Linked DNA regions of Homo sapiens. The protein of the gene in region 1 interacts with the protein of each later gene in a pairwise test. Each region holds a gene or a part of one and is shown on either strand. Other genes may lie near its edges. The genes, in order: UPF3B and UPF1.

What was found.
Region 2: the proteins of UPF3B (region 1) and UPF1 interact in binary tests that used the Homo sapiens proteins (3 or more experiments, as listed by UniProt).

What each region holds. Positions count from the first base shown.
Region 1 is NC_000023.11:119,839,401-119,843,213, reverse strand, and holds part of UPF3B (regulator of nonsense transcripts 3B), read left to right. Parts: coding exon 1-23; intron 24-1,435; coding exon 1,436-1,479; intron 1,480-1,955; coding exon 1,956-2,138; intron 2,139-2,529; coding exon 2,530-2,568; intron 2,569-3,813. UniProt on the Homo sapiens protein: Involved in nonsense-mediated decay (NMD) of mRNAs containing premature stop codons by associating with the nuclear exon junction complex (EJC) and serving as link between the EJC core and NMD machinery.
Region 2 is NC_000019.10:18,859,204-18,863,016, forward strand, and holds part of UPF1 (regulator of nonsense transcripts 1), read left to right. Parts: intron 1-1,117; coding exon 1,118-1,235; intron 1,236-1,622; coding exon 1,623-1,779; intron 1,780-2,806; coding exon 2,807-2,949; intron 2,950-3,813. UniProt on the Homo sapiens protein: RNA-dependent helicase required for nonsense-mediated decay (NMD) of aberrant mRNAs containing premature stop codons and modulates the expression level of normal mRNAs.

The DNA.
Region 1 (3,813 bases):
AGCAAAAAATAGAGAATTAATAGGTAAGTGGGCAAAAAGAATCAGGGCAACAGTCTTTTCATCACAGTACCTAAGTCTCCTACCTCCATCAGTTGCTAGCTGTGTGACTTCAGGGAAGTTACTAGTTTCTCTGAGACTGTTACTGTAAATTGCAGATGGTAATACCTGCCTCACAGCATTATGAGAATCCATTAAAGTGGGAAAAATTCTTTGACCTATTTAGTTTCACACAAATGTAATATAAATACAAAAAGTTCGATGACTGATAAGGAATGTTTAGACAGTGGTAAGCCTTTGAAGGTCAATTGGTATTTTCTAGTAATAAGTTCATATTCCTAAAAAAATTTTGACTTGAAAATACGAAAAAATGAAATTAGTTACTGCAAAATTGAAAACTACTTGAGGAATTCTAGCTTGGATCTTGGTTCTCAGTAATAGGCTGTCACTACTGTATCAGTAGCTCTAAACATGAGCATAATCTTTGACCCAGGATTTCTACTCAGGAATTTATCCTAAGGAATATGTGGGGTTTTTTTGTTTGTTTGTTTGTTTTTTTTGCTTGCTTGCTCGCTCGCTCTCTCTCTGTGTGTGTGTGTGTGTGTGTGTGTATGTGTGTGTGTGTGTGTGTGTGTGAGAGATGGAGTCTTGCTCTGTCGCCCAGGCTGGAGTGCAGTGTCGCAATCTCGGCTCACTGCAACTTCCGCCTCCTGGGTTCAGGCGATTCTGCCGCAGTCTCCCGAGTAGCTGGAAGTACAGGTGTCCGCCACCACGCCCGGCCAATTTTGTATTTTTAGTAGAGCCGGGGTTTCACCATGTTGGCCAGGCTGATCTCGAACTCCTGACCTCAAGTGATCCGCCTGCCTTGGCCTCTGAAAGTGCTGGGATTACAGGCATGAGCCACTGTGCCCGGCCAGGAATATGTGTTTTAAGATGGCTGTAAGGCCAATAGCTTATTCAGAATGTTGAAAATGAAAAATATTCTTCCAAAACTTGACTTTTATTAATAGATGGATAGTACAAGCCTATTTCTGGTAACTTTCTTAGAATAAATTCCCAGAAGTGGAATTATGGGGTCAAAAGGATTAGATATTTTTAGCCCCTTCCCCCCAACTTCTTCCAGTTGAACAAGTTTACACTCCTATCAGTAAAACAAGAGAATGTCCTAAGTACTTAATTCTCATCAGTTGGGAATGACTCTTTTAATAAATTATTTTGTTGTTTTAATTTGAATTTCTTTACTTTTTAAAAGGTATTTTAATCCCGTATTGTTGAAATCGAATGCTGTAAAACTTCTTTCTGATATTACAATTGTGATCTTTCTGCATAAGGGGTGTACATGTTTTCCCACCTTGGGTGGTTGGCAGGGAATGTCAGAAAATGGAATCGTTTCTAGGGGTTGATAAGTATGATTAATAATCTGTTTACATTTATGTAGCTAAAAAGACAACCCCACTTTTGAGCTTCCTGAAAAACAAGCAGGTAAATCTTTTGTCTTTATAGTTCTCTCAATACTTTAATTTCTTTGCTTTGCATTCTATAAACATTTTAAGAGCATTGGGTTTCTAGAGGAGAAATAGCTGCTTTTTCCACCATTACTCTTTAAGGATTTGCCTTCTTGGTCTCACTCTCTAGCCTGCTCCTTCACTCTGGTTGTTGGACCAGGAGTTCACTCTACAAACGTGGAATGTTCTTAGGTTGTCCCAGAGACACTCATTTGATATTCTGAAAGCCTCTGGAGAGATAGTAAGGCAGCAGTGGAAGAATAATATTAGCAGGTTCTGGTCTTCATTGTCTTTCGTTTTCTGGGTGGAGTGGGGATAACGGTGGTAGAATGCCACTTTGTAGAAAGTAGGAAGGAAAGATTATTCAGTTGGGGCCTACCATGACTTCAGGATTTATTAGGGTTTTGGTGATGATTATTTTATTTGAAGGCTTGTGTTGATGTTTCTTTCTAGAGAATGAGAGAAGAAAAGAGAGAAGAAAGGAGGAGGAGAGAAATAGAAAGAAAAAGACAAAGAGAAGAAGAGAGGAGGAAATGGAAAGAAGAAGAGAAACGAAAAAGGAAAGATATAGAAAAGCTAAAGAAGATAGACAGAATTCCAGAAAGGGACAAATTAAAGGATGAACCAAAGATTAAGGTATAAGAATGTTGAAACTGACTGCATGTTGCTAAAAATTGCACGTATCTACTTCTTTAAATATGCATGCGTCTTGTGTTGGTGTAAATGAATTTTTTGTTTTGTTTTTGTTCTCTTTTGGGGGGAAGTGATCCAATAAAAATCTTTCCTGTAATAGTATTAGTTTTTAAATTTAAGATCATTTAAAAGGATAAAGTAGTATGTTATTTCTTCAGTGCAGATCTGTGCTGTTTTTGTCATTGAAAATGTTGGATTTTTAGACTATTGTCCTCTAAATTCATAGTAAATGAGGGCTTAGGGCTGGCTGGCATGATTTATGGTTTTTTTTCAGCTTTTTCTTCATAATTGATACATGAAGTTACCTCATCTGTTTGTTTTCCACTGTCTTCAGGTACACAGGTTTCTGTTACAAGCTGTGAATCAGAAAAATGTAAGGACCAAGTACATGATACAGAGCATCTAGTATCATGTCACACACACAGGTCTTAGCTAATAAGTCCTTTTGGTGGTGGTGGTGGTAGTGTTACTTGTTGAAAACCCCTTCAGGTTGACTTGAGTCTTCTTAAAAGCTGAGCTATTTTATTATAAATTTCTACTTTAAAAGGAAGCCCAGGTGACTTCCTGATGCTCTGCTGTGTGCCCAGAAGCTTCATTGACCTACAGCCAGAGGACAACCATGCCTATATAGTTCTTTCTCATCTTCTTATATGCTTCTCATAACTGGCTGCCTTGTGGGAGGACTAGGGATAAATACCCTGCAATATGTGCCTTTCCCTCTCACATGACTCCCGTAGTATCTTCCTGCATATATCTGGGAATCTGTGAGCAGCAGATTCGGATTCATGCATTGCATTTGGGAAGAAGAAAACCTGCAGAAAGATCCCAACCTTGCCACTTCCCTTCTAAGGGCATGGCTTGGGCAGCCCTTGTTTCAACATATTTCCTGGGGAAGTACTAGTACCTAGCACTTCAGATAAAGTCAAAGAAAATCTCACAGAGAGGGTGGCAGGGTCTCCTTATTTTATTTCCTGAAAACTCAGCAGTTTATGTAGCAAGGGTTCCCTAAGTCTCTACGGGGCTCATTACTGATGATGAGGGGCTTGGGGGAGGATGGAGTTTCTCATCTTAATTCTTTCCAGCAATCTCTCTGTCTGCTATGCCACAAGTGACTTGACTTGCTATTCCTAACAATCAGCAAGGCAGAAGGTAGAGCCAGCCATGCTAGAGACATTCATTAATGTTCTTATTAGAGTAATGAACACCTTGGTTTCTAATAAGGATGTTCATTGGAGAAATAAGAGCACTTCCAATGAAACCTGCACATGGTATCCTCATTTTACACTGGTGCCTTCTCAGTGTCCATTTTGGACTCACCATTTGCAGTGGCTGTCTGTGTGCCAAAATGCTTTGTGCTTATGTCTTGTGGTGCTTTGCCTTTTGCTTAGTAATTTACATGATGCCTTCACCCTGAGATGAACCTTGTGTGATACCTTCACTCTGAGACTTGAAATTCTTCTATTTTGCCTAAGAATCTCTCTGATTATCCGACACTTGGAGGTATTCTCGAGAGATTCATAGCAGCAATGTAAAAAACAATGGCATTTTTGAACATGCGTAAATATGGCATTAAATACAGAGTTCCTACTCAGTAGAGATGGAACTTCACTATTTGGTT
Region 2 (3,813 bases), on another chromosome or scaffold:
CTCAGACCCCTCATGGTCCCCAGGGCATCGGCCCAGAGGGCAGACGCTGGTGCACACTGCTCTCTAATTGATGCACAGCACGTAGTTCACACCCAGGAAGTACATTTTAGGAAATTCTCTATTGAAGTGTAAACATGTGGCCACATTACAAGTGTCTGGCTCAATGAGTGGTTACTAAGTGAGCATATTTGGATAGCCAGCACCTGAACCCAGAACCACCTGACCAGCTGTGAGAAGCCGCCTCATCCCTGCAGGTGGCCACTGTCCAGGGGTGCGCATCCACAGCAGCCCCTGGGCTGAGGGACTTCTGAGCTCATCCGGCGGCCCCTGTGCTCGCTGTAACAGCAGTGATCCACTTGGCCTCATTTTCAGCTCGACGTGGGATCATATGATGTGTCCTGGCGTGTCTGGCTTCCTCTGTCCATGTCAGGCTGGTGCTGTGCAAAAACACCGGTTTTCTCCACTGATGGAAGCTCCCAGTAGAGTGAGGAGGGCACCTGTGAATTGAGAAACTGGTTTTACAGTTTTAAGGAAACGCAACAGGGCCCAGAAAAGCCAAGATGAGCATGAAGAGCCCGAAGAAAGTGGCTGCTCACATGGCAGGACGCCCCGGCCCCCAAGCTGCAGTGTTGGGCCCCGGCCCAGGAGGGAGCCCAGAGGCAGAGCCACCGGTCAACAGGCCCTCAGCAGGAATGGACAAGGCTGCAGGGCAGGGGGACACTGTTGGCTCAACAGTGTCACACACAAGTCAGTTGTAGGGGCTGTGGCGCCTTTAAGGCAAGCTTCTGGAAGGAAGCAGGAGAATATCCTGTATCCTGGGGTTGGCAGAGATCCAGGCTGCAAGAAAGCCCTGGCTGAGACCCTGTTCCCTGTTCAGGGGCTGAGCCAGCTCTGTGCTGGCCATGGTGCTCTCGGTGGCCTCTCCTCAGCCTTGCCCAATCCTGGGCATCTCTGGCCAGGGGACCGGCTCAGGTGACCTCACCAGGGCCTCACAGATCGAAGTCTCCTGCCCCAGGACCTGCAGCACTGTAGCGTAGCAACTACATTGCCCTGTGTCTGAACTCATTTGAGGCGGGCTAGGGCTTTTGAAGTGTTACTTCTTTCCCTCCCCTCACAGCGGATCGTGTGAAGAAGGGATTTGACTTCCAGTGGCCCCAACCCGATAAACCGATGTTCTTCTACGTGACCCAGGGCCAAGAGGAGATTGCCAGCTCGGGCACCTCCTACCTGAACAGGTGAGCAGGGACAGGCCCACCGGCGTCTGCAGGTCTTGGGGACAGCTTGAGAGGTTGTTGACCCATTCTACTTATTTTTAACATGGGACTGAAACTTTTTTTGCCTTCATTTCCTGTTTAGCCTGTTTAGACTCTAAACCGTGTTGTTTCTGCCTCCTTTTCCATTGTACTTGTTTTTTATTGGGCAGATACTTGCTAATCCCACATGGCAGCCGTTTCTGCCCCTCGAGACTCCCCTGGTGAAGGCTGGGGAAGCTCAGCTGTGCAAACGCCAGTGATGGCAGCTGCCTTCCCGCAGGGTGTTGTGTCTGCACCCCTCACGGCCTCCAGCCTCAGGGCTCGGGATCCCACAGGTGGAGCCCAGCACTGACAGCCTGGGTTTCTTAGGACCGAGGCTGCGAACGTGGAGAAGATCACCACGAAGTTGCTGAAGGCAGGCGCCAAGCCGGACCAGATTGGCATCATCACGCCCTACGAGGGCCAGCGCTCCTACCTGGTGCAGTACATGCAGTTCAGCGGCTCCCTGCACACCAAGCTCTACCAGGTGCGCTGCGCCCTCGGGCACACTTGGTCTCCTGGGCCATGCAAGGGTATTGACCCTTGACCTTTAAGTTACCCCCCAAGAGGGGCCCGTCCTGGCTGGAGCTCAGAATGGCCCAGGAAGCACCAGCTGGCCCACCCTCTGGGGAGGGCACAGACAGCACATCCCCACAGACCCTGCGAAATTCCACATGATCAGGACAGAGACTTTGAGAAATACATCACAGGGATCAGAAACATGGGCTGAGATTGGCACATCAAGGTGTTTTCTCGGGATGGTTGAAACAAGTCCAAGGTGGAACGGCAGTGGTCTGTGCCTGCCACACACTGGATGTTGTGCTGTGGAGACCGTGGTGTTCACACCTTTATTGACACCCGGATGAAACACCCACTGCGGGTGTGTGGGGAGGAGGCACAGCTCTGCCTCCATGAGGAAATGAGCCCAAGTGCTGAGTCTGAGTGGCCACATGGCAGTGGTTTCTGTTCTGTTTTTGAGCACGGCTCAGGTTCTCTGGGATGAGCACGTGTGCTCTTAGTGCTGAGAAACAAATCTCCGTGGCTAAAAGAGAACAGGCTAGGTGTCATGGCCCACACCTGGAGTCCCAGCACTTTGGGAGGCTGAGGCAGGGAAGTCGCTTGAGGCTAGGAGTTCCAGACCAACCTGGGCAACGTAGGGAGACCCTGCCTCCACCAAAAAAAAATAATAACTGGGTATGGTGGCATGTGTCTATGGTCCCAGCTACTCAGGAGACTGAGGTGGGATCAGCTGAGCCTGGGAGGTCAAGGCTGCAGCGAGCTGAGATTGTACCACTGTACTCTAGCCTGGGTGACAGAGCAAGATCCTGTCTCTAAAAAAAGAAAACAAAACGAAATGGCAGCAGAGCCAGGACAGCCCCTAGGTGCGGTGAGCAGGCGCCAGGCCCCAAGCTCCCGGGTGGGATTTGAGGGTGGGTCTTGGTGTGTTTCCTGCATTTTGGGGGGACTGGGAAGGCAGCCTGCTGGCTGATAGTGACCACAAAGCTCCCTTCCAGGAGGTGGAGATCGCCAGTGTGGACGCCTTTCAGGGACGCGAGAAGGACTTCATCATCCTGTCCTGTGTGCGGGCCAACGAGCACCAAGGCATTGGCTTTTTAAATGACCCCAGGCGTCTGAACGTGGCCCTGACCAGAGCAAGGTAGGGAGGCTGCCTGCTGCATGCTGCCCAGCCGCTCATCGGTCCTCACTTCCCAGGGAATTTGGGGCTAGGGTTGGGGGTTGCCAGGGCCAGAGGTCAGAGGACTCTGAGCAGCAGTTGAGAAACGATGTCTCACTGGAGAGATCTTTGTTTCCGTGTCCTGGGGGTTTGCTGTGGCCCCTGTGCCTCAGCCCAGCAGGACGTATTTTTCCAGGCCCTTCTGGTCTGATTCAAAATAAATCTTGTGTGTGTCTGTCAAGTTGTTTAATCTGAGAGGCTGTAAGTTTTGGTCCTGTCCACTATTTTTGGTTCTAAAATACAACTTTTGTGAACTGATGATAGCAGAAGGGACCCCGAGAACAAGGTGTCCATTCTGTCATCCCACATAAAACTAGACATCAGGCCAGGCATGGTGTCTCACACATGTAATCCCAGCACTTTGGGAGGCCGAGGCAGGTGGATCACCTGAGGTCAGGTGTTCTCGACCAGCCTAACATGGTGAAACCTCCTCTCTACTAAATACAAAAAAATGAGCCGGGCGTGGTGGCACATGCCTGTAATCTGAGCTACTTGGGAGGCTGAAACAGGAGAATCGCTTGTACCTGGGAGGAGGAGGTTGTGGTGAGCCGAGATTGCGCCATTACACTCCAGCCACTGGGCAACAAGAGCAAAACTCTGTCTCCAAAGGAAAAAAAAAAACACTAGACAGCAAGGACCCATTCACCAGCTGGAAGTTGGGGGGACCTGGCCTGTGGCTCCACCCAGCACAGGGAGAGAGCCTGGTGCTCCTTCCGGCTCATATGCGCGGTGGTTCTCCTCTAGGTCACCATGGCTTTGTCATTGGTTACTCCCTCTTTCTAAGGC